5 separate regions of the Homo sapiens genome follow, and regions 2, 3, 4 and 5 are each reported to be linked to region 1. Evidence: microRNA targets listed by miRTarBase, many of them from high-throughput screens and not tested one by one. Region 1 holds a microRNA gene; each other region holds the end of a gene's coding sequence.

Region 1 (4,119 bases):
CCGCACCCGCGCTTCCAGCTTCTGCAGCTGCTTCTTGCCGCCCTTGAGGGCGATCTGCTCGGCTTCGTCCAGCCGGTGCTGCAGGTCCTTAATGGTCTGTTCCATGTTCTTCTTCATGCGCTCCAGGTGGGCGCTGGTGTCCTGCTCCTTCTTCAGCTCCTCTGCCATCATGGCGGCCTGTGTGCAGGAGAGAGGTGGCACATGGTCTGGTCAAGTCCTCACACACTTGCTGCCCAGCCCACGGAGAGACACTGGTCTGGATCGGGTCGGTGGAGTGGGGGACTTACATCCGTGATGGCCTTCTTGGCCTTCTCCTCAGCATTCCTGCACTCCTGCACTGCCTCCTCCACTTCAGTCTGGAGCTGGGACAGGTCAGCATCCATCTTCTTCTTCTGGTTGATGAGGCTGGTGTTCTGGGTTGGGGGAGGGTTGGGCAGAGCAGGAAAAGCATTGAGCATCTATGCATAGCTCTCAAGCCTTGCTTGCTGAGCCCCAGCCTGTGCTCCCTTCAGGAATGAGCAGGGGAGCTGCTCACCTGGGAATGCAGCAGCTGCACCCGCTCACTAGTCTCAATCAGCTCCTGCTCCGCCAGCTTCCGGGACCGCTCTGTCTGCTCCACCACGGCACGCAACTCCTCCAGCTCAGCCTGCAGCAGGTTGTTGCGCCGCTCCACGATGGCGATGTTCTCCTTCAGGTCGTCGTTGGCACGGACTGCATCGTCCAGCTGAATCTGGGTGTCCTGAGGATCAGGAGAGTGGGCATGAGCAGGGAGCCAGCCTCGGTTCCCTTCACTAAAGGCACCTGTCAGAGGTCCCTGCAGTAACCTAGGGGCAGGAGGAATCTGGTGCCTGTATCAAGACACTACTGCTTCGCCAGGCCACGTGGAGGCCAGTCCCCTCTGGGTGAGTACCTTCAACAAGCTCTGGAGGCTCTTGACTTGCTTCTGGGCCTCGGCGGCCATGCGGTTGGCGTGGCTGAGCTGGATCTCCATCTCATTGAGGTCTCCTTCCATCTTCTTCTTCACCCTCAGGGCCTCGTTGCGGCTGCGTGTCTCTGCGTCCAGGGAGGTCTGCAGCGAGTCCACCACCCGCAGGTGGTTGCGCTTGGCCTGTTCCATCTCCTCGTCCTTCTCTGCCAGCTTCCGCTCGATCTCTGCCTTGATCTGGTTGAACTCCAGCTGGGCCCGGAGGATCTTGCCCTCCTCGTGCTCCAGGGAGGCCTGGGAAGGGGTTGGGGGAGGGGATGCAGGCAGACAGTCAGGGCACAGGGCAGGGTGGGGGCCTGCTCACTAATCATGGATACGAAGTGACTTCAAGAGTGGTGTAAGTGGTTCAAAGAAGCAGAAGGTGGAGGAAAAGAGAATCTAAGAGAAAATAAAAATAAGCCTAAGAGAAAGTGATTCAGGCCCTCACAGGGGAGAGCCAGCTATGAAGACAAGGAGGAAAATGAAGAGAAAAGTGTTGCCAAGGAAACAGAGGCAATCAGGTATAGAGTATAAAAGAAAACAGAGGGAGGCAGAGGTGGGAACCGGGAGGTATGTGGAAATGGGAAGCTCAGCTAAGATGCAATGGGTAAAATGTTTATGTGAAGAGAGTTCAGTGACTGGTCATTCATTCACTCCACAAATCTTCACTGAATGCCTACTATGTGCCAGGCTCTGTCCTAGGCTCTGGGGATGGGACAGTGAACAAAACGGACAAAGCGGGGGATGAGAACAGGGACCAAAAGCCTGGAGCTCAGCTCCCTGCACCCCGTGCCCTGCACACACACACACCTCGGCCTCCTCCAGGGCTGACTGCAGCTCCATCTTCTCGGCCTCCAGCTGCTTTCGGACCTTCTCCAGCTCATGGATAGTCTTTCCGCTGGAACCCAACTGCTCAGTCAAGTCGGAGATCTCCTCTGTGTGGGGAACACGGTAACTCGGTTGAGGGCTGCTGAGGTCCAGTGGAGTTGGAGGGACACGCCTCTTTGCCCAGACGCCTCTTGGAGCCCTTGGGTGGCACCATATGGGAACACTGCCAGTGCAGCCCCTCCCCAGCCTCTTGGGCCCCCAGCACACCCTGCAGGTTTTTGTTCTCCCGCTTGAAGGTCTCCAGATGTTCCAGGGACTCCTCATAGGCGTTCTTGAGTTTGAAGAGCTCTGTGCTGAGGGAGCGAGCCTCCTTCTGCGAGGACTCCAGCTCCGACTGCGACTCCTCATACTTCTGCTTCCACTCGGCCAGGATCTGCCCGGGGACAAGGCTCACTCTTCAGCCCCCCAGCCTCAGCCCCATGTCCAGGGTCTGTCTCAGGACCTGCCTGGGCTCAGCCCTCCTCCCCCACCTCCAAGGAGGATGGCTCTGGCCTCTCACTGAACCCCTCATGCCCCCTTGCCCTGCATGCTGGCTGCGGCCCCCACCCAGGGCCCACCTTGTCGAAGTTCCTCTGCTTCTTGTCCAGGGCTGCAGCAGCAGCATTGGAGCGCTCTACGTCCACCATCAAGTCCTCGATCTCATTCTGTAGCCGGTGCTTGGTCTTCTCCAGCGAGGAGCACTTGGCATTAACAGCCTCCACGGCCTCCTCAGCTTCCTGCAGCCGCTGGGCCAGCTTCTTCCTGCCCAGGGGAGGGTGGCAGAGGGTGGGGAGGATGGAGGGTGTGGATGGGGACAAGAGGAAACAACATGAACCTTCTCAAAGACAATCCTTGAAACCTCAGAAGTGTAGCTGGAGAAGCCTGAGGACAGGTCCCAGGGGCCGAGAACATCAGGCAGAGGATCCCAGCAGGGCGTGGAGACCCAGGCACCCTCTGACCCTGGCCCAGCCTCTGCGCTATGGACATTGAGGAGGTATGGGCTTCTGCAGCCCTCCCCACTGCCTTTCCCTGCCACAGTGCCCTGCCCCAGACGGAAGCACTCTGCCCTCAGACAAACCTTTTGTTCGTCTTATATTCGGATCAGAAACATAATTCGAGCAAAAAGCTTCCCTGAGAGGAGAAGGAGGTGGGGCCGGGGCAGAGTCCTCCTGTGTTGTCAAACACTAGCTAAGCATCGCCTGTGTGGGATCTGCTGAGGCTGGGGCTGGGCTGAGTCCTGCCTGCAAAGGGGCCTCAGCCAGAAGTCAGGCTGCTCAGAACTCACTTGGCCTCCTCGAGCTCCTCAGTCCGCTGAATGGCGTCCGTCTCATACTTGGTCCTCCACTGGGCCACCTCCGAGTTGGCCTTGGAAAGGACGCGCTGCAGCTCGGCCTTGGCCTCCGTCTCCTCCTCGTACTGCTCCCGCAGCAGGTCGCAGTCATGCCGGGCCGACTGCAGTGCGTGGGCCAGGGCGTTCTTCGCCTGGGGAGGGGTGGGCACCAGGAGGTGGGTTCAGCTTTCTCCATAAAGCAACCCCACCCTTGCCCTTCTCCTCACCCCAATCTCAACATCATCCCTTGGCCTCATCTATGTCCAAACCCCCAGTGGACCTGTCATGGTTTACTGTTTGCTGATAACAAAGAATGCCAATACAGCAGTGAACTATTTAAGAAAAGCTTCATGGCCATTGGCCCTGAGCTCCTCCCCACACCAGACATGGTCATCATCACCGCCATTTTACCTGGCTGGGGAGAGGGAAACAGGCTCAGAAAGGTTAGGGGACTTCCCTAACCTAAGATCACTGAGCTATAAGAGGCAGGTTAGTATGAACCCTGGAGTTTTTTAAAAATCATGTTCTTTCTCCTTTTTCATGAGTCCAGCAAAGTGCTAGGAATAGGCTCCAGTTGAATTTCTTTCTCCAGTTTTCAGGTGGCCCTGCAAATCCCAGGACCCATTTGTGCAGTCCCTACATCCCCTAGCCGTGCCCGGGCAAGGCCATCTCGTGCCTCCCTAGTTCATTTTCTCTCCTCCTTCTCACACCCTGCCTCCCGTCCAGGGATGCAGCAGAAGCAGAGGGCCTCAGCCTGGGGAGTAGATGGCATGTGGCAGGGTTTGGGCTGTGATTTCTTTTTAGAATTCTTGGAGAACTGTTGGTCCACAGCCAGCCTTATTGCTGGGAAGGGAAGTGATTTGATGCAAGGCTAGTCAGTGTGCTCCTTGCTTGGGCCAGGTGGCCCGAGTCTAGCCCTTACCTTAACCTCCTCCTCCAGCTGCCTCTTGAGGTCCTC
Region 2 (4,119 bases), not on the chromosome of region 1:
TGTGTACTAATATTTCTGGCTAAAATATGAAGACATTTGCTATATTTTATAATTTTTAAAGCTCATCAGAATCTGGATACCGCTATAGTTTCCTATAATTTTTCCTTTATGAGAGGATTTAGCACTTTTAAAAGCTAAATAAAATGAGAAGTTCACCCAATCTATAATGAGTCATTATTTTATAGGTCAGTTTCTGAGATTAATTCACCAATATCTAATTCACTCAAGGGACAGAGGAACTGGACAAAACTGCCATAGCCTAACAAAAATGAGGTAAGTCTCATGAAAAAAAAGTGTTATTTTATTCTAAGTTCTTGTTGGGAGAGAATGAACTAGCCCTTTATACCTCACTACACATTATAATACATCACCTTCCTTTAATTCAGTTGCAAAACTATAGAAAAATATTATATATGTCATTTTGTTAAATGCAAGTCTCATCCTTTAGAAAGCTGTAGTAGGAACTGAGATACTACTATAAGATCTCTAATAAAATGTTTCTGGATAAATCTGTGGGAAATGTATTACGCCCTCAGTTAACAAGGCTTATTTTCAAAGGGGAGACTTAAAATTTGCTCCAATGTCAGTTCTCTACAGATGAGAACCAATACTACAGCAAGTAAGTCTTGCCTTTTTATTAATTAATTGGTTAGTTAGGATTTGTATTTAAAAATAAATATTACTGAGTTGGATTGTTTTAAATTGAACTCAGAGATACACCATATTGAATAAATTATTACTTATTCCAAGAAAGAAATAGTTCAAACTTTGAATTATCTACACAAGACATTAAAACGGAAAAAATGTACAGCACATGAACAGACACCAAAGAGCTTTTTATGTCTTTCTCTGCTAGTTTCTTTTTTGGGGGGACAGAGGACTATCTAATCTCCCTCTTCAATCACAAGCAAGCCCAAGTTAGTTAATTATTTTCTTTTAATCAAAGGAAATATTTTCAATCTCCTTCAACCCAACTTTATGGACTATCTCTAATTTATAGTACTATAATGACAGTTCATCTGGATTTACACAAAATTTCATGATGCACTTCTATAAACATTCAAACCTTTACAAACGTTAAAAATCAACTTTGTGGCACTTTGGTAAACTTGCTTAATAGTGACTCAAGTTAAATTGAAAGTAATAAGACTATGTGATTATTGGGAGAGTAGGGGAATTGGTCTTAAATTATATCATGACCTTGTTTAGGGTTTTTTACTGATGACCGTTAAGTAAATAGTTTCCAAGTATTTGACAGATAAATGGTGCTCTATGGTCTCCAAAAGTGGCCTGTTTTCCTTGAAGAATAGGTAAAGACAGCAGGCAATCATTCTGTGGGATTTTGCTTTTGCTAAGAGCAGGTAGAGAATTTAGATACAGTTACTATGCTCTATTTGCTCTTCCTATACTTGGAAGGGAAAACAGTGAGGTTAAGTTGTTCCACCTCCACAGAGTATTCTGGTGTCTATCCCTAAGCTCTCTTTGGGTCCTCTAAGCTGGTTAGGAGAACCAAAGAGGGGAAGGGGGAAAGTAAGAAAGACTACTCCAATTGAAAACCATAGACACATATGTTTTATTTTAGTAAAAATTTCAAATTATGACTTTAGTAGTCTTTAAAAGGTTACAACCATATCACAGACCTTGGCAAAGCTGCAGTGTATTAATTTTTATCCCCAGTTTCCATTCTTTAACCTTCAAGGAACGAAAATGAAATCAAAATTTTAAAACACATGATTATAAGCCTTTGTATCAACTGAGAATTAAGAATTTAAGTCATGAATCTTTTTCTTAATAAGCTACTTGACGTAACAAAAAGTAAAAAAAAAAGAAATCTTACTAACCTCTGTACTCTTAGAGTTTGAAAAATATTGATTACAGCTCTTCCTACAGAATCACGGTCACCTTCAAAATGCTATCCACAATATAAAGAAAATTATGAAAGTCAGAAAGCAGCTTGATTGTCAGTAGTATCAGTTTCCATCTTCTTTAACCCATGTGAATGTTCAAGACATGTGGTAGAAGAAAAGGAATAATGCTATTTCTAATGTTCATGATAACAAACACTCTAGGAAAACATTTAAAGAAACTCCATGATTTCACAGTTAAAATTAGAGCTCTATTAATAACCAACAAGCTAAGGTGTTTTCTATATCTCATTGCTCTGTATATTTCTAGCAATTTATAGAGAAGTTTAGCAGATCTACAAGGGTTTTCATCAGTTAATTTTCAACATTAACTAGGTCACATGCCAGAAGCTGTTATACCAAATATTTAAAAATTAGAGCTGTGCTGAAAAAAAAATGACCTACAATAAGAACTTGAGAGAGATATAGACTGACTTCCTGCCTGAGACAATTTTACAGCCTAAAAATTCTGAAAGCAACAGAAAAGCAGAATTGCTTATTTTGCCTAATTACTTTCACCATTTAAATATTAATCAACATAGCATCAAGTCTAAAATTCAGCTACTAGTAACATTATTTCATCAGTAGTCATCACTTAAAAAAGGATTCTGAACTTACATAAAGTAAAAAACAAAAATAAATCTAATAGGAAAAAGATAAGGGCCTGTTCTAATACCTTTGAGTCAATAATGAATGAAAACAGACAGAACTAAAACTAATGAAGGCACTATCGTAAACAGCAATCCACACCTTGCCCACCCCCACACCTCAGAAAAGATTTCCACCAGGAATCAAGAATTATGCTATGGCCCTTTAGGAAAAGTAAACTAAGAAATTGTAACATTAAGAAGGGAACTAAATTATGATCTCTACACATGTATGTATACTGACATAATAAACTACTGTCAGCAGTACCTTGAAATCTTCTAAACTGTGTAAGTACTAGTCTTTGAAGACGCCCACTTCACCGCCATAAACTTTAAACAGTCAAAACGTTTACCCAAAGTAGTGGTTCTTAAACTAGACTGTGCATCAGAATAACCCAGCACTTGTTAAAAAAACAATGCTAGGCGCCTCCCTGTTGGTTTCTGATTCACTATGTCTGGGGGCGGGGCCCACTAGTATGCATTCCTAACAACTTCTCAAGTGATGCTGAAGCTGCAGGTCTTGGGATCACCTGCCAAGAACCACTGGCTTAAATTATTAATGGTACATCAGCACAGCCCTAACCAAAATTTTGGTCAAGATGCATGTAAACCCATAAGGATGGAGTATTTTAATGCTCACAAAGAACGTTGATAAATTCACCCTTATTACATCAAAACATCAACATCTGCTTCATGGTCTTCCTCAGTCACTTTCAAGGACAGCACCTCTTCGTTAAGGAAGAGCCCACTGAGCCTCTCCTTCCGGGCCTGCCTCTGCTCCTTCAGCTGCCTCTTGCGGAAGGCCTTCTGCTGTAACTTCCGCTGCTTGGATCGCTTCTGTCAAAATAAAAATTTCTAAATCAGTTTGGTTTAGTTTTTGGCATATCCACCCCAAAATGTTTTGTGGATCAAATTCTCTATTTTCTAACTTTAAGAGCTGTTCAAATCCTTCTGTAGTATGATCCTTGTTCCAATAAGTGAGCCACTGGCTTAGGCTTAAAAATGATTAAGATTCCAATTTTGTGGTATTTGACCAGTGACTCTTCTGATTAGGAAGAGTTGAGACGATCATTTTGGCTAGTGATAGATAAAAAGTCACTTCAAAGACTTCTTTTTTAAATTCCATTAAGGTACATTGGTACAAATGCATAATGAACACATAATTAATACTAGGCGACAATACTGAATACACCTGTGGAGAACATTGCCCAAATCTCTAATACTTATGATTCTCAGGTGCCTTTCATCCAAAAACACTAGCAATCTTACAATGGCAGGTAAAAAAAAAATCATGCCTTTTTTGTAGTAGGCGAATACCATCTTAAAAATCCATCAGAAACTCAGTGGATACTCCCATCCTTGTCACCGGTGAACTGATAATAAAAAGGAATGACCACATATCTAGAGAAATTCCTTAGCAACAAAACTGGCTATGTTTCTGCTACTTCCCTAAGAACCAGGGAAAGAATCATTGTGTATCTTCAAGTCACCACTGGGTCACTAAAGAGTTAGAGAGATTCTCTTATCATCTTTAAACTGGCTCCAGATTCTTGCCATTGCAAGGAATC
Region 3 (4,116 bases), not on the chromosome of region 1:
AAGGTCATGCTGGGCAAGGTGAACCAGTGCCCCCACCAGTTGATGAATGGAGTGTCCAGAAGGAAAGTTAGCCGCCACATTGTCCGAGAGGAAGAGGCTGCTGTGCCTGCTCCTGGTACTACTGGCATCACATCCCATGGGCACATCTGTGCTCCAGGTGCTCCTGCTCAGCAGGTGTACCTGCAAGAGACTGGGAACTGGAAGGAGGGCCAAGAGCAGTTGCTCAGATACCAGCTGGCAGGCCAAAATCAGCTGCTGCTGCTATGCCCAGACTTCAGACAAGAGAGGCAGCAGTTGCCAGGGCAAAGTCGGCTGAGTAAGCAAAGTGGCAGCTTGGGGCTTTCCCAAGAGAAGAAAGCCTCCTGCGGGGCCACTGAGGCATTCTGCCTTCATTCAGTACACCCGGAAACTATTCAGGAGCAACTGTGATCAGGGAAGTTGGGGGCATTTGGCCTGAAAGGCAGAATGTTCCCAGTATTTCTGGATAATAAGCTGGGGAAGTGAGGACTGTCCTGCTGGGACAACTAAGAAGAGAGAATGTGGACTCTGAATCCCTTTTTCAACTTTAAAATGGAAAACAGTCATATAAATGCTTACAGACTGAAAAATGTCTCATACATATTTTGCAGCTATCATGATCCTAGTTCAATGCTAGGCAAATAATGGCACTTGTTAATTATTTACCAGTTTTTAACTTAAGCCTGATTTTAACAACTTGATAATGGTGTAATACTGACTTATACCAGCAGGGGTTATTATTAAGCATTCTCTGGATTGACCACCCACAATGCTTTGAGCTTCTTTTATAGAAGGGATCATGAAAAGGTCTGGTCAGCTACAGTTTAATTCCACACTGTTACAGAAAAGCATTTCTTTATCCTGTAGTAGCATTTGAAGGGACAGTTCAACACCCTGCTCCCTGATCTGTCAGAGCTTACCTTCCAACCACAAGGCAACTTCCTGGCTTTTTACAAGTGGATTTTATTTCATGGTTTAAATTCAATCATTATTGAGAACCTACAGTAGTGTGAGCGTATCAAATTTGCACTTCATGAGGATTTACACATGAAAATTGATATTCTCATGGGCTTTGCTGAGAGTTTAGTTAAGGACAAAGATGTAAAAATGCCAAATTTGGGAAAGGAAATTTTGTATGACCACTGTTCTATTTTTCAGTGATTCTCTCTGTTAGTAGCTGGGTCACATTTACAACTGGAAAAGAACTACATTGGGAGATCAGAGAAAGCCAAGTGGCCAAGTCCTTTATCAAAAAGCTGCTTTTTGGAGAAGATGATGCATAAAGCTGTGATACTAAGGAGAGGAGAGATTATGTCATATGCAACTGCTCTAGGCTGTGCAGGGGGTTTAAATGGAGATCAGAACAAAGGCTCACCTGGTATTGATACATTTGGTAAGGTTGTTAAAGGCAATTTCACCAAATTCACACATTTGTACGGGGCCCATTTCTTTTCAAACTGAAGAATACTTTAAACAGCCTGACTGTGTCCTTGGCTCTGGATCCAGAAGGCCTTATGCTCCAAGCATGTAAAGAAAAGATCGCAGGAATGTGGAGAGCTTCCAAAAAGAGATTGCTCTCAGATTTTCCTGAAAATCCTGAAAACCAGGATTTTCCAATCTCTACAATGTTAAGGGGTTGTTGTGTAGTTGCATTGGAAGAGAGAAAGGAAACACACTCTTTCATTGCTGAATTCTAAATAATGATGCCCTGAATTAGTTCTATGAGAAGTACTGGCAGACAGCTGTTATGTCTGCAGGGCATCAAGGGGCAGGTGTGTCTCACCCTACTAAGAATTGGCAGAAATGTTTTAACCTCTTCTTTAGGCATCTGGTGAGTATTGCAGATCTTCAGGCTGTCCCTAAAAGGAGGTAGGTAGCCTTCTCTGTGGTCACTGTGTTGGATTTGGAAGAAAATATAAGTAGATGTTAAGGTCAGTGCTCTCCAGGAGATTTCAATCCAGGCTATCTGTGTTCAGGGAATGATTTGCAAGAAGTTGGTTTATAGACGTTTACTCTGGAGGCACAAGCTGGCTGCCATGCTGAGTAAGTCCTCTTTGTAGATGATGTATTTTGCTTGGGCACCAACAGAATTAAAAACGAAAAACAAAAAAAAACTCGAATGACTTAGGCAGAACATGCCTTCCCTAGTTTAATTAGTCCCTGTTATAACCAGTTATTTATCTTTTTTTGTAGATTCTCGGTCTTGAAGTCATTTGCCTTTGCAATCTCTACTTTAGTATACTCATTGGATCCTCAAAGAGCCGTAAGCTTTTTGGAAAAAAACATTTCAGAAGTGAAGGCTTTTGAGGTTTATAAAATGGTAGCAGTCTTAGTCCTTGCCCTGCCTCAGTTTACCTGCACATGCTTTCTTTCATTTCCTCGGATTCTTTCACCACTTTTTAAGTTTTTTTTCCACAGGTATTTTTCCTGAGCTCTATACCATGCATTTAGCTGCCTAGTGAGAATATCCAGTAGGTTATCCTATAGTTACTATGAAGTTAACACAGCCCAAAAACCTACTTCTCCTTGTGTTTTTTTCCAACTCAATGAATGACATCACTGCACTCAGACCAGAAATCTAGAAGTCAGTCATGACTCTTCATTCTATTTCGCCCTTCACAAAGAGTTAGCTGCCAGCTCTGTTATTTCTGCCCCTTCTTTACCCTTCTTCCAATTTTTATTATCTTCTTATTTATCCTCTATGTGTCACAAGACCAGTCTTTCTGGGAGGCATGTTTTATCCTATCCCTCTGCGTAGGAATAACCATAATTATCTTACTAATTCCATCCCAGAAAAGCCTGTGATCCCTGAGGCCAGAATTGACTCTTTGGGCCTAAATAGCAGCTATAAACATCTTCAGTAACTTGCCAGGCTCTAGCATGTGGCATGGAATTTTGGCATCTAGCTAAAATTCCTCAACCCATAGTTAAGCTACTCCTCTTTCTCCTAAAAAAAAAAAAAAATGAGAGAATTAGGGAAACACCAAAAGCAAAGAGAGCAGCTCTATGTTCATTCATGTCTGGAGATGAGCCAATTTGAGCACCACTGTAGGCCAACTCTAAATTTATTCAGATCGTTAACATGGGTAACCCAGCAAATATTTCCCAGCAGTGACAATCTACACCCTTTATCTAAATAAATATTGAGATGTGCTTTTTTCCTGTGTTAGTTCAAAGAATCTCTTCTTGCCTCCCATTGCTGATTTTCTGTATTGATGGACTCATTTCTCTCAAGAGATTGGACAAGCTAAAATTCTAGAGAGTTCAAAAGTGTTTGAAAGTACATTTTAAGTGTTCTCACCACAAAAAATGCTAGTGTGTGAGGTGATACATATGTTAATTAGTTCAACTGATCCATTCCACAATGTATACATATTTCAAACTATCGAGTTGTACATGATAAATATATACAATTTTTATTTGTCAAATAAAGAACATCTATAAATATTTATAGATTTCAAAATTGAGAAAGAAGTATATATGGAGCCACGGTTGTTTTGACCATTTCTCCATGCTTTTTGTTTGGGGAGGGGGACATTTTTTGGGGGGCAGGGACTGTGTTCAGGGAAAGTACCTGACCAACAGAACTTCAAGTCTCTTCCAGAGTGCGAGACTCAGCTTATCTGATCAAGGTGAACTTGCCCTTCAATAGACTTGCCCTTGTTACTGCCCAGTGAGGCCACCAAGGACCAAGAACAGTTGAGCTCTCTCAGGGCCTTCCCCTTTCAACAATTTAGTTGAATGACTCCCTTCCATCTATCAGTCTTACTCCAAATATATGAAATTACTATACATTGAAATGCCTGCAAACTATATGCAAAAATGAGTATGAGGAAATCAAATGTAAATCATATGCAAATATTATTCAACCAAGCTTCTATAAAATTGTACGTGTCAATAACAGTAAAGAATTTTAATTAATTCTGTCATTTAAAATTCATGCATTCCATATTTTGCTTTCAGAACTTATAGTCTATGCCAATTTTGAAAAAACTATAAGCACAAGGAATTAAATACTATTGAGTATAGAACTGTTGATTTCAACATACACTATAGCACTTTGACTAATTACAGATATATTTGATAGAAAAGTCACAT
Region 4 (4,119 bases), not on the chromosome of region 1:
TGCGGCAAGGTGTACGGCAAGACTTCGCACCTCAAGGCGCACCTGCGCTGGCACACGGGCGAGCGGCCCTTCGTGTGCAACTGGCTTTTCTGCGGCAAGCGCTTCACGCGCTCCGACGAGCTGCAGCGGCACCTGCGGACCCACACCGGCGAGAAGCGCTTCGCCTGTCCAGTTTGCAACAAGCGCTTCATGCGCAGCGACCACCTCAGCAAGCACGTGAAGACGCACAGTGGCGGCGGCGGCGGCGGCGGCTCGGCGGGCTCGGGCAGCGGCGGCAAGAAGGGCAGCGACACCGACAGCGAGCACAGCGCCGCGGGCAGCCCGCCCTGCCACTCCCCAGAGCTGCTGCAGCCCCCCGAGCCCGGGCACCGCAACGGCCTAGAGTGACGCCCACCCTGCGCCCGCCCCTCTCCCCGACCTCCTCCCACCAAGTCCTCTTGGGCCCTGTCTGTCCGGACTTCAACTCCAGCCTTTCCCTATTGCATCCGACTCGCTCTCTGTCTCTTTCTGTTTCTGCCCCTCTTCCTTCTTCCTTCTGTGACTTAACTTTGTAAAGGGGATATGGACAAGTAAGTAACACGCATCGCTGTCCCGGGCCCTGGCTTTCCCTTTCCACGGGTAACGCTGCCTGAACCCGTTGCAGCCGGAACCCGCGCCTCGTCGGGCCTTTATTTCTCGTTCTCTCTTCCTTGTCCTCCCCTCCTCCACCCCCCAGGTTGTGAAGGGCGTAACTTTTAGAGGGAACGGCCACTGGAGGTAGAGCTGGACTAATCCAGTGCCTGGTAGACAGCGGGCCTCGCGCGGGCAGGAGCGGCTCGGCTGACAAGCCTGAGCGGAGCGGTGGAGAGGGAGAGGCTGGAGGCCTGGGCAGAACAGCGCCGCCCGGGCAGACGGCTGCTTGGTTCCAGAGCCGCTGTACTGAGCACCTCGGCTTCGGAGCACCCTGCCAGGCCCCTGGGCATCGCCGGACGTCCTACTCAGGCTGTCGGGGCTTGGTGGGGGTGACTTTTGGCAGCCCGAGACCCAGAGTTTGTAGAGTTTAGATCTCCCAATGTCAGTCTGCCTCTTTTTCTTTGTTCCCTGAGGTGGAACCGATGCAAGTTTCAGCAAAGGGCAGTCTTGTCGAATCGCTGCAGCAGCTTTCTTTCATCTTTATAGCATATATTTTATTTTTAAAAAAACTAGGGGGAAAATAGCAACCTTCCATTTGGTTTCCCTTCTATAATAGTTTTTTCCTCTAACGGGGAGCAATCTTTCTCTCGAAACTGCTAATATTGATCCCAAAGTTACTTTGACTGCATTAACTTAACTTACGGGGTGGGGGCGGGGGTGAGGGTAGGTGCTTTTTTCTTATGCAAAAATACTCCTTTCCGGTGAGACCAGATTAACTATCTCCATGTTTGTCCTTTTCTACCTCGTTTTTTCACCACTCCCAAACATAACCTCCCAATCTTTTTTGTTAGTCCGGCCGTCAATTGTATAGTACCAATTTCGTAAATTCTCTCAATTCATGAAGATCGTAGGGTTAAACTTTTTTGTGTGTGATTTAAACTTACAAACAAGTGAAGAAGCTATCGTTTATTTCAGACGAGGCTGTAGTTTAAATACCAAAAGAGGGAAAATAAAAAAGAACCTTTGTAAAATATATCTGAACCTAATGGTTTGTACAACTGGAGAATCGTTCTAGATTAGTTACCAATTAAATATAACTCCGCCAGTGTAAGGGTGTGAGGTGCAGTTGTCCAGGAGACGATTTTGTATAGTATTTTTCTTGTACATTACTTCCAGTAAATATTTGAAAATATATTGAAGTAAACTTGATTTTTTTTTTTTGTCACAAGAAAATATTAAGAGTTATTGTTGCAGTTCTGATGAGCTGCAGGTTTTTTGAACTCACTTCTGGAGGTGCAGAGCCACAAACGCACTTTCGGGGCCTAGTTTTGCTCGAATATGAATTTAGATAGGTATCAAGCTGTAACTAAGACAATATTTGATAAATGTTGGATGACATTTAATTTAATGGAGCATGTACTTATTTGCATTTGCTGGCAGTTCAGGCATAGTTAAAGTGAGAGTTCTCCTATATTTCATAATAAGTGGTCTGCCAAAACCCATGTATTAAATAAATTGTCCAAGTGAAACTCGACTAACTTTGGCCTTTGTGTATTTCCTGAAGGTAATATTGTTAACTGTTAATAAATACTTCTGACACTACATTTAAATGTTTGCAGATTCTGCAAACTAATTGCTCATTGTAATGTTGAAATAATTTGGATATTTCACATTGAAATGAAAAGCCTTTCTCTGGAGCATTTTAGATTTGCATTTTAAATGCATGAAATGTAATTGATTTATTTGTAATATTTTAAATGGTATAATAAACTCAGATAAAAGACTAGGCCAGTTAATTTGTATTTTTTCCCCTTTTTAAACTATGGACGTGCATTTTATCTTCAGTTAATTGTCTAATTTAAACAAAATATATCCTTGTTTGTGGTAATATTTAAATAATTACCTTTAAGATGTTAGATGGAAAGATCTATTTGGCAAAGCTGTGTTTTCTCTGTTTACCAAGATAAAGATTATAGTGTCTAAGGAATGTAATTGATTATTTACCAGTAGATTTAGCTCATAGCATCAGGATTTACTGACCTCTTAAAATTTGTACTAAGTCACAATTCAAAGAAATTTCACCATTCTCTTTCCTTCTCAGTCTCCAGAAGGAGTCAGGTTGTTGGCCATTGATTGCATTAGTATTTAAAAGGCCAAGCCTTACATTGGAAGATCAATACATCTAAAATAAAAACATGGGTTTGGGGATAACTTTTGTTGTTAGGAGGTGGAGGAGGTCAAGCTAACAAAAGCTTGTTTTTGGCATTCCAAGTCTTAGCTAAAGATTATGTAGAGGTAAATATCAGTAGTAGATTCCTGTTGAAATGAGTTATCTGTTCTTTTAAAGTCTCTAAACAGCCACCAAAGAAAAGGAAGGTTAAACCTTAATCTATTTACTAGGCTATTGTTCATAGGTGTCAATGATGCCAATAAAAAATACTGTCTTGTTATGTCTAAGTGCATTTAGCAATGGGTGTTCCTGAGCCATACTTTGAAACATAAAATACTCTAAATGTTGATTGATGTTATATCACTATTTCACTATTAGATTAATATTATTATTTTGAATCAAATTGAATAAAAAGTTAGTGTGTTTGGATTCTTACAAGTTTAGCTTCTTTATTTCTGTTTGCAATCTCCCCACCCTAAGTATAGTCTTGGTATACATCTTGAACTGAAAAATTTTCCATTGAAATCTATATATGGTAATTATAATGCATAGAAGCAAGTGAAAATACAAAGTGCTATGAGCACTGTAAATTGAGAGGAAAAAGCAATTAGGGATAAAAGATGTTTTAGAATAATATAGCTCGTGTCCAAGTAGGTGACACCTTTAATCCTGCTGTCTATGCAGGTATTTGAGGCCTCCAGTCTCTATGGTTCTAGACAAACAAGTTAACTCTGATTCTTTGGTATACTATAGTTCTAAATAATGGATTTTAAAAGTAAAATAGTTTCTTTCTGTCACTTTCTTCCTAGGATAACAAGCAGAACACAGTTTAAGTGTTGTTTCTTTTTTATTGAAAGTTGCAATGCTGAGGGATTCGGAAAGAGCGGTTCTGAAGGAGTTAAATGTAGTGGCAGGTAAGAGGAAAGCTGCTTGGTACATTTATAATATCAGTTGCATTACATGCAGAATCAACATTGATTTAAGAGGTGGGTTATGACAAGGAGAAATATTGTCTGGAAGAAGATTTCTTTGGGGTGATTGAAGGGGGACATTTTTTCTGCTGTACAGATGTGCAAACTTTCCCTTTCTTCCTTCTGGCTCCTCACCCTTCTAGCTTTGCTTGGTTTGTTTTGGTGGTTATGGAACAGTATTTCTAGCTTAATTTTCTGCAGGGTGGGCAGGGTTCTTTTGGGAAAACAGAAGATGAGGTACCAAATTGTGATTTTTTTTTTTTTTTTGTTCCTGTTTTGTCCCTGATAAAGCACTTCCTGGCAGTAGCTGGAGGCTCACTCAAGTGAAGTCAAAGGCCAGGTCTCACTTTGAACCAAGGGACAAGC
Region 5 (4,112 bases), not on the chromosome of region 1:
CTAACAGGAAAATCAGGAAAATGTTTCCAACCTGGTGATTGAGGACACAGAGCTGAAACAGGTGGCTTACATATACAAGTGTGTCAACACGACATTGCAAATCAAGGGCAAAATTAACTCCATTACAGTAGGTGAGTCTTTGTCGCTGTCCCACGCAAGCCCCGTCCCAGAGCCCGAGAAGGCTAATACCATTTTACCTACCCTATCCTTAAAGATTCCTAAATGTATATTACTTTCCTTTAAAGTTACACGTTGACACACTCCCTTTCTTCTCCTAGATAACTGTAAGAAACTTGGCCTGGTATTCGATGACGTGGTGGGCATTGTGGAGATAATCAACAGTAAGGATGTCAAAGTTCAGGTAACTCGATATTTTGGCTCCTTCTTTTTGTCCCTGAGGAATTAATTCAAAGAGACATGGTAGACCCACAGATGTTGCTTTGGTGGGAATCTGATTCTACAAAGTCTGTAAGCTGAGCTGCTTTGGACGTGGCAGAAGAAGGGTTGGCTCTTCAAGCAAGTTCTTTTCAGGACCCATCCCAACCCACCCGAGTATCCAGTGTCTTGCGCATCTGTGAGCTTTTCATGTAGTTGCTGAGTCACGTGAAACAGGAAACCTTTTCCTGCGACTTACTGTTGTCCTTCCCAACCACTGGGACTCAGTTCTCTTTGTTTACTCTGCAGGTAATGGGTAAAGTGCCAACCATATCCATCAACAAAACAGATGGCTGCCATGCTTACCTGAGCAAGAATTCCCTGGATTGTGAAATAGTCAGTGCCAAATCTTCCGAGATGAATGTCCTCATTCCTACAGAAGGCGGTGACTTTGTAAGTTTCTTGATCTCTTTAGTATGATGTTAAAAACAGAAGGGACTGAAGATTTCTGGCATTGAAGAAAGCTATTTTATGAACATTCTGCACTGAGCAGGTAAAAACCCAATAATGCACACCAAAAGTACACAGAAATGAGGTAGTCCCATGTAGTGGAGCCCCAAAGGTAGGTGCTTTCTGCCTAAGTGGAGCTCAAGGTAGCAAAAAATAATGGGGATGAGCCATGGCACCTTGTCAGGCTGGTGCTATAAAGCCATATGTACTGTTATTTACACCCCATAGACTTAATAGTCTGTCCAAGATCGCTGAACACTAGAACATAGCATGGCTCTGTGGGTTTGTCTCTTGCTACATTGTACCGTGCTCCTGGGGTTAAGTGGAAGCAAGCATTGGGAGAAATGTGTGAGATTTAGCCCCAGCTGTTCTTTAGCTCAGATTTAAACCTGCTGTCTCTTCTTTATTTGCAGAATGAATTCCCAGTTCCTGAGCAGTTCAAGACCCTATGGAACGGGCAGAAGTTGGTCACCACAGTGACAGAAATTGCTGGATAAGCGAAGTGCCACTGGGTTCTTTGCCCTCCCTTCACACCATGGGATAAATCTGTATCAAGACGGTTCTTTTCTAGATTTCCTCTACCTTTTTGCTCTTAAAACTGCTTCTCTGCTCTGAGAAGCACAGCTACCTGCCTTCACTGAAATATACCTCAGGCTGAAATTTGGGGTGGGATAGCAGGTCAGTTGATCTTCTGCAGGAAGGTGCAGCTTTTCCATATCAGCTCAACCACGCCGCCAGTCCATTCTTAAGGAACTGCCGACTAGGACTGATGATGCATTTTAGCTTTGAGCTTTTGGGGGTTATTCTACCAACAAACAGTCCATTGGAAAGAAAACAGTCCCTGGAATTAACAGATCAGAATGTTCACACTGGTTAATCTTTTTTTAACAATGAGCATGAAGGTAGCAGAAGCTGGTGTGTTTCCAGATGGTTCTTCTAACCAAACTAATTTTTCACTGTTGACAAGCGAGGCAAGGGTTGCACTGGACCAAAGGCTGAGGCTTGGCCATCTAGCATTCCATACAAAATTGTTTCCTATAAGCATTCCTTTTATTCTCTATTCTATCCTGGGTCTGCCTCAACCGTGAGATAGGAGAGTCTCTGGTACTAGCTGCTGTAGCAGTGCCCTTCATCCAGGGCAGTTAATGGAGTCTTGGACCCTTTCTTTCTCTGGGATCCCTGCCCAGCACCTTCCTATAGAGATGACTTTAAAAGGAAAAAAAAAAAAAAAAAAACCCACATGATTTCAAGGAGTCTGGCATTCCTGAATCCTTCTTCCCTGCCAGGTGCCTGTCACCTGTCTTCACTGCCTCCTTTTCCCTGTCATGCTCATCAGCTTATGGCTTCTGTCTAAGCACCTGAACAGAGGACTGAAACCTCCACTGCAGGCTGGTTTTAGGTCTTGAATTATGTAAGAATCTTGCACAGCACTGCTAATGTAAATTTCAGTTGTTTTTCCCTCTAGGACAAACACTTACCAAAATATGCAACTTTTTTTTGGTGGGAAGAGAGATTGTCCTGTGATTTCTACCCATTTCCTGAGGCCTGTGGAAATAAACCTTTATGTACTTAAAGTTATACAGAAAATAGAATAAAGTTAATACCAAACTTGCTTAGTTGTTTACCTGTGATATTGGCTGTACAGAAATGCAAAAAATACTGAAAACACCAAGGATAAGAAACTACTCTTTATTTTAGACAACCTCATAAAATTATTTTCACATCCCCCCCAACTTCTTGCTCTTAATCCTCATCTTTTAGTTGAAGAATAAGGCTTAAGAGAGAGAAAGGAAAAACCATAATGGCTAAACTTAGCAGCACCAACACGGTTCTTTCATCAAGGCGTAGCTCATCATTTCTCCAAACTGACATGCTACAGAAATGTCTTCCAAAAAGCGTTAAGTTTTCACAGAGTGGGGACTATGATTTCCATGCTCAAATAGTGTAGGAAATGGTAGATTACGTTAGTTTTGTTTACTGTAACAGGAATTCTCAGGAGTCCTTAGACACTCTAATGTGGGTTGATCTCCAGAAGGAGAAAGGGAGTGTGTAGTATTTTCCAAGCTTTTTGAGCAAACAATCCTTTTCTCATGGAACACATCAGAAACAGTTTGGAGTATGCTGGTAAATGTGTTTTGGGGATGGAAGTCAGAAAGCCTGATCTTTTTCATATGGTTCCTCCTATTCTCTGCTAAAGCCAGCAACAGAGTAAGTTGACTCTAGCATCAAGACCACTAGTCATATTAAGAAAGGGCAGGTTGGTCGAGAATGGAATAGGAAGAACTAGCTGCCTCACTTTTCACTTTCGCGCCTACATTTTCTTCGCTCCCTAAGTTATACAAGATGTACATTTCCTCTCTTAAGCAACTTAATTTGGGTGCTACTTCCCTCCTTTTGTGACAGCAACTAATTCATCACTACCTGAGGAGACAAAGTGGGTGCTGCAGAAGCAAGACTGTAGGCCAGTGGGATTTGTCTAATAATTGATGATAAGATGATAGCACAGAGGGCAACGTACTGAGAGAGGAAGGCAGCCTTAAGAAATGATGCAGAAATAGCCAAGCAAGATTTTTCCAAGCACTGGTTAAATCACCAGCAAAACAAAGCATTTATGTGAGTACCTCAGGCCTGGGCACCTCTTTGCTTGAAATATGGCAAGACTTGGAAAAATGTTTGCCCTTAGAATCTATCTCACTACTTTAGTTAGTTGTCTCCTTTGGGCCTGGGCACAGTTCTGGCACTGATCTGGAACAGACTCCCTTTTCTAAAACTGAACTTGACCACATCAAAAGTTTGTAAAACAATCTCCATGGTAATTAAACTTGCATTCAACACCATATGGTAACAGAAGATGGCAAAGGATAAGATTCAGATCTTAGATCTTTCCAAGTAGGGCATGTTAGATGATAGAAGGATTAGTTGCAAGCTGGATCTGAGCTCAGGCTTGGGCATGAAGGAAACTGTCTCCCATGTGGTTTGGAAGAGTTAGGGGCTCCCTGAGCTCTATTGTGAACTATACGGGTTTCATCCAAGGAATGGTATGATGTGGGCATAAAACCATTCTTCAGACAACTGAAGATGGTCCCCTTCTGTAGCCAGAAACACTAGCTGTCCTGCATTGTCCATTTCCTTTAGCCCCAGGCGGTCCTGCAGAAGGAAAGGCCATAATTAATTAAAAAGCTTAATGAAGTTTTGGAGTAAAATGGTAAGTACGTTAACTTGAGATA

The links. The annotated mature microRNA hsa-miR-208b-5p reads AAGCUUUUUGCUCGAAUUAUGU and lies in region 1 at 2,939-2,960, opposite strand. An mRNA with a match to its seed (bases 2 to 7 or 8) in the 3' UTR can be bound and repressed. Matches are read on the target gene's strand: a 7mer-m8 pairs with bases 2 to 8, a 7mer-A1 pairs with bases 2 to 7 and ends in A, and an 8mer does both.
Region 2: the mRNA of FAM199X is a reported target of hsa-miR-208b-5p. Seed matches in the 3' UTR shown: 7mer-m8 at 832-838.
Region 3: the mRNA of PKHD1 is a reported target of hsa-miR-208b-5p. Seed matches in the 3' UTR shown: 7mer-m8 at 1,270-1,276.
Region 4: the mRNA of SP8 is a reported target of hsa-miR-208b-5p. The part of its 3' UTR that is shown has no 7-base or 8-base seed match.
Region 5: miRTarBase lists PPT1 as a target of hsa-miR-208b-5p. Seed matches in the 3' UTR shown: 7mer-m8 at 2,948-2,954.

The regions. Positions count from the first base shown.
Region 1 is chr14:23,415,094-23,419,212 of GRCh38, forward strand. MIR208B (microRNA 208b) reads right to left here and starts at 2,970; the gene lies at 2,894-2,970. MYH7 (myosin heavy chain 7) reads right to left here. Exons shown (of 40, transcript NM_000257.4): 29 at 4,084-4,119; 30 at 3,117-3,313; 31 at 2,410-2,593; 32 at 2,060-2,225; 33 at 1,775-1,899; 34 at 911-1,219; 35 at 536-739; 36 at 288-413; 37 at 1-177. It overlaps MHRT (myosin heavy chain associated RNA transcript), which reads left to right and starts at 357. Exons shown (of 6, transcript NR_126491.1): 1 at 357-408; 2 at 528-736; 3 at 908-1,204; 4 at 1,823-1,915; 5 at 2,119-2,280; 6 at 2,440-2,502. RefSeq lists an enhancer at 153-1,352.
Region 2 is chrX:104,188,877-104,192,995 of GRCh38, reverse strand. FAM199X (family with sequence similarity 199, X-linked) reads right to left here. Exons shown (of 6, transcript NM_207318.4): 6 at 1-3,388. The coding sequence ends at 3,218. Among named protein-coding and RNA genes, the nearest start is that of FAM199X, 24 kb to the right of the region's middle.
Region 3 is chr6:51,615,394-51,619,509 of GRCh38, reverse strand. It overlaps PKHD1 (PKHD1 ciliary IPT domain containing fibrocystin/polyductin), which reads left to right. Exons shown (of 67, transcript NM_138694.4): 67 at 1-4,116. The coding sequence ends at 429. Among named protein-coding and RNA genes, the nearest start is that of PKHD1, 470 kb to the left of the region's middle.
Region 4 is chr7:20,780,558-20,784,676 of GRCh38, reverse strand. SP8 (Sp8 transcription factor) reads left to right here. Exons shown (of 2, transcript NM_182700.6): 2 at 1-2,398. The coding sequence ends at 387. Among named protein-coding and RNA genes, the nearest start is that of SP8, 4.3 kb to the left of the region's middle. RefSeq lists an enhancer at 753-1,413.
Region 5 is chr1:40,070,152-40,074,263 of GRCh38, forward strand. PPT1 (palmitoyl-protein thioesterase 1) reads right to left here. Exons shown (of 9, transcript NM_000310.4): 9 at 2,561-4,032. The coding sequence ends at 3,910. CAP1 (cyclase associated actin cytoskeleton regulatory protein 1) reads left to right here. Exons shown (of 13, transcript NM_006367.4): 10 at 8-131; 11 at 279-361; 12 at 685-828; 13 at 1,299-2,497. The coding sequence ends at 1,382. Among named protein-coding and RNA genes, the nearest start is that of PPT1, 25 kb to the right of the region's middle. RefSeq lists an enhancer at 1-887.